Homo sapiens: one gene and its partner. The protein of the gene in region 1 purifies or fractionates together with the protein of each later gene. This does not show direct contact. Each region holds a gene or a part of one and is shown on either strand. Other genes may lie near its edges. The genes, in order: SPATA19 and MTHFR.

What was found.
Region 2: the proteins of SPATA19 (region 1) and MTHFR purify together in Homo sapiens (affinity purification with mass spectrometry; 2 studies listed by BioGRID and IntAct, with this or other methods). This does not show direct contact.

The regions. Positions count from the first base shown.
Region 1 is NC_000011.10:133,843,138-133,847,044, forward strand, and holds the start of SPATA19 (spermatogenesis-associated protein 19, mitochondrial precursor), read right to left. Parts: upstream 2,377-3,907; 5' UTR 2,310-2,376; coding exon 2,232-2,309; intron 2,054-2,231; coding exon 1,997-2,053; intron 1,504-1,996; coding exon 1,372-1,503; intron 1,201-1,371; coding exon 1,109-1,200; intron 1-1,108.
Region 2 is NC_000001.11:11,788,965-11,792,771, forward strand, and holds part of MTHFR (methylenetetrahydrofolate reductase (NADPH)), read right to left. Parts: intron 3,416-3,807; coding exon 3,314-3,415; intron 2,363-3,313; coding exon 2,243-2,362; intron 1,935-2,242; coding exon 1,716-1,934; coding exon of another isoform or gene 1,576-1,715; 3' UTR 496-1,575; coding exon of another isoform or gene 306-495; 3' UTR 80-305; coding exon of another isoform or gene 1-79. Other genes in the region: uncharacterized protein C1orf167, read left to right, coding at 1-79. UniProt on the Homo sapiens protein: Catalyzes the conversion of 5,10-methylenetetrahydrofolate to 5-methyltetrahydrofolate, a cosubstrate for homocysteine remethylation to methionine. Represents a key regulatory connection between the folate and methionine cycles.

The DNA of each region.
Region 1 (3,907 bases):
GAGTGGAAAAATTATATGTAAATAATTGACTGATTCCTGTAGCCTGTCTGAAAAGCTTAAAACTAGTTTTTTTATACAGACGAGATTTTTAAAATATTGGAAGATGATGTGTGTGTTATCCAAACCAAGGAGCACAATGTCCGCAATTCCATAGCACAACCACGTCAGGCACAGAAAAGCCTGGATTATAATCAACAACATTTATGATTTTAGGGGCCTCAGAAGGCTTCCCATCCAAAAAAACTCTTTCCCAGGGAGCTCTCAGATCCCACCATGTTATTCCTTTTGGTTATGAAATTACTGTGCATTTGAGTCTTCCTAAAAGGCAGATGCCACTAGAAGGGGTAAGCACATGGAAACCGTTTCTTGAGAAATGGAGCCTCCTTGATACAACAGATCAACATCGATGATGCGGCAGGGAAAGGAGGAAGAGAGGAGGAAGGGGAGAAGTCTCCTTCAGGTTCCCGTAGGACCAGTCTAAGCCCTCAGTCCCTCTCCTGGGAAGGGGTGGCTGATGTGCTCCAGAGACCCCCAGTGAACACAGGTGCAGGAAAGGAAATAGGAAAGCCTCTGTCTGAAGCATGATGGCTTCAGGCCAGCTCCCTGGGCCTCGGGGCTCAGCATCTGCAGAGCCACGAGAGGCAGTGGGGACGGCTGTGAGCTGGCAGGCACCCGGGACGCTGGCGAAGCCACCATAACCGAGTGCAGAATTCTAGCCTCGGGCGCTGGGAAGCCTCCCCACACCTCAGTTGCAGATGAAAACTTTGGCTTTTGCATTTTAAGAGCTTATTTTCTTTTAGCTCTTTAAAGTGCAGCCACTTCTGAGCAACTCAAGTGCAAAAATAACAGAAATCTGAAATGTATTCAGAAGCATTTAAGAAATGGAGTGCAAGCCCAGTTTTCCAACCCCTCAAGTCATTTAAAAATGTAGAAATGAGCTGGGCTTTCAAGATAGCAAGGATATTCCCTTAAGACCCCAAAGCAAGGCTGAGGAATTTGTCAGCCAAAGACGACATCTCTAGAGAAGAGCATCTGAGGGTTCGTGAAGAGAGGGGCTTGCGCATCTCTCCCTCCCCTTCCTTCGCCCAGGGCAAGTGGGACACCTTACCTCCATCTTATGAACTGGATTCGTGTTCTCTCCTCTAGGACCTCTTGGCTCTGGTTTGCCAACAAATCAGACTTAGAGAGGTGGTGCTTCACCTGGGAAATCCAGAGGGTCCATGTGATTCCTGCCCAGTGTGGCCCCCAACTGGGCTGGCACAGAGCCCAGACGAGCACCTCACCCTTGCCCAGAATCATTTACGGTGCACCTCCCACCTCTCCCCTCTCCCTCACCGCTACTCCCAGGCAAGGTCTCAAACTCTCATTTACCACATCTCTGGTCACGTGGATGTCCTGGCCATGGGTGGGAGGGGAGTCAGTGGACATCTTCTCCCTTACACCCTGGGAAGGGTGGTTGATGGACAGCTTTTCCTTTATGCCCCGAGAAGCCTCTTCTTCTGTCTGAAAGGTGAGAAATTCCCTCTGAAAATGTCACTCTGCATCCAACCCTGGGTCTTCTTCTCCTCTTCCTTTCCTTTTATTCATTCTCCATCACAACTCACACACCACATATTCACACACATACACTCCTTACCTCACTGTTCCCACAATAAGCTACTTCCCTGTAAAGTCCTCAGAACTCCCTAAGTCCCTGGCCCTATCCCAAGGTGTTCCTGAGACACCCTTGAGCTGGGAAGGATGCAGCTGAAACCCTTAAGCCAGGATGCTTGAGAAGCAGGACGGCGTTAGTGGTGGTGCTAACACATTTCCTGCCAGGACACAAGCCACAGTGTCCTCCAGCACATGTGAAGAAATTAGACTCAAATCTAGGAAGGGTGTCTGGCAATGAACTTGAGTTCCAGTTCCATGAAGAAGGAAGTCCAGATCCCCACACCCACTGAGACCACTTCTCTAGCATTTTGGATATCCTGAGTCATAAAGAAATCTTACTCACTTTTTTCAACCAATGATGTAGTACAGACACAGCCTCACTTTCCACAACGTCAATGTCCTGGAACAAATTGGCAAGTTGGTGACCTCAGAAAACCTAGAAATTCAGCTCTTCCCACCCAGCCCCCGCAACTGTTACTCAAATTTATTTGTAAGATCTCTATGAAGTGCAGCAGGGTCCCACAGGGGGAGAAGATATATGAAAAATTATTCCATGTGACTACCACCAAGCTGCTTACCGAACTGGTTATTGGTAGGAAGGGAAGCCCTACACCTTTCCGAGCAAGAATATACACAATCCATGTCGTAATTATCATCTTTGAATGTATACCAGGCCCCCTTCTTGGCTCCCTCCTTCCATTGAAGCTGCCTGAGAACTCCTATGGGACAGGAAGGTCATTGAAGGGAGGTGTCCACCTGATTGGCTGACCCATGGTGATGTGACAATGGCCTCCCTTTGAAAATGATGTATGTGAGTATAAATGCCGTTGCCAAGAGCCCCTGCATTTCAGGCTCTGGGTGCACTCCTATGAGTTACCCTGCTTCAAGGAGCAGAACCATTGAATAAAAGATTGCTGTCTAACACCATTGGCTGACCCTTGAATTCTTTTCTTGGGAAAGCACTAATTTGGGAGCTCACCTCCAGGCAGGAGGATGGGGTCTGGAGCCAGGAAACCTAAGGCCGATTTACACTGACTTCCTAGAACTAAATCAAAAGGAAAACCCCAACTTTCCGTGCCCAAGTAACAAAAAGACCAGAGGCTACGCCCTTTGCAACCCTCTCCTTTTCTGCATGGCAGATGAAAAACTGAAAGTATCTCTGATTGCTCCCCTCCCACAATCAGGCTGGTTGTGGGCCAGGTCTTCATTTGCATAGAGATATAACTTTATAACTTCACTTCAGCCTCTGATTGGTCACTTTCCGCAACCAATCAGACTGATCATGAGCCACTACTTCATTTACATAGGGTATATACCAAGTAACCAATGGGAAACCCCTAGAGGGTATTTAAACCCCAGAAAATTCTGTAACCAGTCTGCTCCCATCCTGTGGAGTGTACTTTTATTTTCGTTAAATCTCTGCCTTTGTTACTTCATTCTTTCCTTCGTTTGTGTGTTTTGTCCATTTCTTTGTTTAAGACGCCAAGAACCTGAACACCCTCCACCAGTAACAACCTGTCCCGCAACAACTTGTCATGTGCTCTTGACCTAATCATTAGTCCCTCTGGTCTGAGTTTCTTTGTCTTATACTGAAAGGGATAGAGTTGTGTCCCTAGCTTTCTTCTAACTCTAATATTCCAAAAATTTTCCCACGTTTATTCTTCTCAGGATTATAGAAAACCTTTTATCACTTTCTCCAATTCCCCTGATACAGCCACTACACGTCTTCCCTCTCAACAATTCGCCTCAATTTTATATCATCCCTGACATAGTCAGAATCGGCTAGGCTCTGCTGAGGACTGAGGCAACAAACCAACCTCCAAATCAAAATGTTTATTTCTCACTCTCAAAAGCTCTCGTGCAAGTTGGGTAATTTCAGAGCAATTGTGTGCCATGTGGAGACTCACAGGTCCACATTCAGAGGACACGACCTCCATGACTGCCAAAGCAGGGAAGAGAGCACAGAGAGGAATCAGGTCAGTGTTCCACCTTTCAGCTCAGAGGCTCCTACTTAGAGCTTTTGATCTAGAACTAGTCCTATGGCCCCTACCTAATTCCAAGGAAGACTGGAAATTGTAAAATAGCAGATGAAATTACCTGTCAACATCTCTGTTTCTACAGCTATCCCCTAAAATTTATGTTTTCATCCTTATTGATGTAATTTTATTTTTGAATATTTAAAATATTAATGTGATTCAGAAATCAAAACATGAACAGATACATTCAAGGACGTTCCATCTCTTCCCCATACCTT
Region 2 (3,807 bases), on another chromosome or scaffold:
GGTCCATCAGTTTGCGAAGAAGGTGTGGCATGAGGCATGGCTGCCACTCACACTAGCCCATGGAGGGCCTGGGTCCTGAGCGCCCCCTCCCTCATTTGCTCTGCTCTGAGTACAGCTTCCCAGCTCACCATCAGATCTATTCTGAGCTTGTGCATTTGGCCTAGGCAAGACTGGCTGGCTGCTTGGGGCAGAGGGAGGGGCCCTGGGGACAAAAGGAGCTGGGTACAGGGGTTGCTCTAGCAGGCACAGCACAGACCCCGGAGAAAGCCCACAACAATAGCATTTCCTCTCCTCCCTGGTTCCAGGCCTTTAAGAAGTGGCACCAACGCCTGGCAGCCAGGAGCCCAAGGAGAGGAGCTGCCAGTAGCCCAAGACCCTGGAGCAAGCCAGGCCCCAAGGGCCCCGAGAGTGGACAGGAAGCCGCCAGAGCACCGCGGGGTTGGGGGCTTGGGGCAGAGCATGGGGCCCAGCTGCAGCTGTGACTTGTTCTCATAGAATAAAAAACAGAACTGAACTTAGCCTTCCCAGGGAAGGAACCATGCCCCACACATCCAGGGAGTGATGACAGAGGGGACAGCTTGAAGAGCTCTGAAGGACAATAAAACCCACTCCTCAGTCCTAGCTGCTGCTTTCAGTCTCTCCTAGCGGCTGCCCCTCTGCCCCAGCCAGTGAGGCCAGGAAGGGAGTAAAGAGGACATCCCACAATTGCGTCCACCCCCTTGGCCATCAGGCTGCTCTTCCACTACACGAAACAGCCCATCTGCACCTGCCAGTCACTGCCCCCAGGCCCTGGGGCTTGCAGGTGACTCGTGGGGAGCCAGGCCAGGCAGATAACCTCTGGGACAGGACGAGGGGATGAGGAAGGCAGCTGGCAGGACAAGGGCCTACCTGAAAAATACACCAGGAAGCTGGGCTGCTGCACAGGCCCAGGCAGATCTGGGGCCCCTGTGCTGGCAAATCTCATCTTAGCCTCTGACAGGGAACGGGGCAGCATCAGGCCTCCACAGCCAGGCAAAAGGGGAAGGCCACGAGCCCCACCAAGCACAAGGGTTCAGACTGCCTTCAACCCTTAAGGGGCACTTTTTCTCTCAAGGCTCAGAATAGACAACTGTGCCAAAAAGCAGCATGGTAGGTGTCAGCCCAATGCCCATCCAGGGGGCTGGTGCCATGGACGGCTAAGTGGGCAGGCAGGGCAGTGGTGTGCCCCTTCAGTCACAAGTAGGTGGGGCCCAGCTGCCCACCTCTAGGAGGTGGAAGGGTACAGCACTTTGCCACATCTCTTCTACGATGCCACCAGTGCCTGATGCCCTTGCGTGTTTTGCCTGTACTGCACGGGCTCCAAGTGTAAGTTCACTGGGAGTCCCAGGCTGGCTCTGGAGGCTGCCTTGGTTCGAGGGCTTAGTTGGCAACAACCACTCTCCTCGCCTTCTCAGGAGGTGCCACCCACTGTGGTCCTCTGCAGGACGCAAGTGCTCCCCACCAAAAGAGCACAGACTCCTGGCTAGAGCAGAGAGTACTAGGTTCCCATGTGGGGCCGACTCAGGTCCAGGAAGAGCCTGGAAGCCTCACTCCAGTCTAGCTGCCATTGTCAGGTGGGGGAGTGGAGGCCGGGGTGGGAGAGACACGAAGGAGAGTGGAGTTCCCAAGAGAAGCAGCACTGTGGAGGAGGAAGGCGGGACAGGAGTGGCTCCAACGCAGGGCGTCAGGACGCAGGGTCATGGAGCCTCCGTTTCTCTCGCATTCTGGGTGGGCCTGTTGAGAAGCTCCAATGTGTCTTCCACCACCTGCCAGAGGCAGTTGTCCAGTGGGAAGTCATTGTCCACCAGGTTGACCAGGAAGTAGTTGTCGTGGATGTACTGGATGATGGTGCGGGACGGGGACTCCTCCTCATACAGCTTTCCCCACCGCTCAATCCACAGGGCAAAGGCCTCGTCCTACACACACATACCCCCGCACACACGCACACATGCACACACACACAGAGGCAAGATTAACAGGGCTCTCCAAGGGCTCTGCTCAACAGGACATTTCCCGGAATAGAACAAGGCCCACTGCCAGTATCACTTCCCACCCCTGCCCAGAAATAAACACCCTGCATCAGCAGTGACATGGGTGAGTCAGAGCTGGGTGTGCCCTGAAGGCTGGGTCCAGTGTGGCCTTCAGCACACGCTTGGGACTTGGTCCCAATCCCTCCCCACGGTTTTCCAGGTGGGCGGGGCAAGCTTGCCCCCGGCTCCTTTACCTTCCAGAACATGAAGCTGACGGGATCCACTACGGTGGGCTGGATGATCTCTCGCCCAGGGAAGATGCCCCAAGTGACAGCATTCGGCTGCAGTTCAGGGGCATTGGTGATGTTTTCACCCTGAGGGGATGTGGGGTGGGGGTAAGACCTGGGCCAAGAACAACTGGAGTCCCACTGCCTGGACAGCCTTGACTCAATGAGGCTGTCTGGGCTCAATACCCTCTGCCTGCGCCTCCACTCCCGGCCTCCACTCTCCCTGCGCCTCCACTCCCCTCTCCCTGTGCCTCCGCTCCTGGCCTCCTCTGCCTGCATCTGTGAATGATATCTCTCCCCACACAAGCCTGAACCTAGAGGCGTCCTGGCCACTTCCCCTCTCCTCCTTGAGCACCCCCTGCTCACTCTCTGATCCATTCCCTCTTGTCTAGCCCACCTCCAGGAGTGTGTTTGGCTTGGGTCACTCCAGGGGTCTCTTCACTGGCCTCCCCGGCTCTAGCCGTCCCCAATCTCTCTCATCCGTATGACTATCCACTGTGATTTGCCTAAAATAAAGCAGGAACCAAGCCACCCCACTGCTGGAGAAAGGCTTCCCTTGCATTGAGGGAAAACTCAAATTCCAGCAGGACAACCATGATCTCTGCGGGCCTGGCCCCTGCTTAACACTCCCGCCTCCTCCTGCTCATGTTCCCCGTTTCCCCAGATGGTGCAGCTCACTGCCTCTGCCTGTCCTCTGCCCTGTCCCAGGAATACCCTTCTCTCCTGTTGGCCAACTCCTCTTTGTCCTCAGTGATTCCCACAGATGACCCTCTGAGAAGCCTTCCCTGGCCTCCCAGGTGAGATATCCCTCCTCTGGACCCGACAGCATCCTCTCCTGAACTTGATTTTCCCACTTACACTGGCTGGTGGTCACACATTGATCTGCCTCCCTCACTCTAGGCTGGGAGCTCCTTAAGAGCAGGGCCCCAGTTCTGCCTGTATCTCTCTGTCTTGCACAATGCCTAGCCCAGGCTAGGTGCTGGGTGTTTGCTCAACGAAGGGCCTGGTACTCTGTGGGAACCCTGGGGCCTGGCCTACCTTCACATTGACAAGGTGGTAATTAACCCGGAGCTCGTACTTCTTCAGCACTTGCAGAAGTGCTTCCGCTGTCTCGCGGGAAGTGAAAAACTCTAAGTAGGCCTGTGGGAGAGACAGGTGCCTGTCACCAACCCCAGCCCTGCCAGACGCCCTTTCGCAGACACCTAAGGTATCAGGACTACTGGCAGCCATGTGGGCGGAATAATGAACTGTGGCGTTGGCACGTCCATAAGCAAAGGGTGAGGGGAGTGGGGACGTGAGTTTCTCAGTCTGGACAGGTCTGAGGGCTATCAGCCACCCCTCTCCCAATCAGTCAGGGAAGACTCCACGAAGAAGCCATTTCTGAACAGCAGCAACTGGTTTGACAGGCCGAGTCATGGGAGAGAGGCCCCACACATTCCATCCTCCCCAGTGCAAGCTGACAATGACATTGACATCTCCTCTAGAACCAGTGCCTATCAGGGATTAAGCTGGGTTTACTCAAACTCATTTGC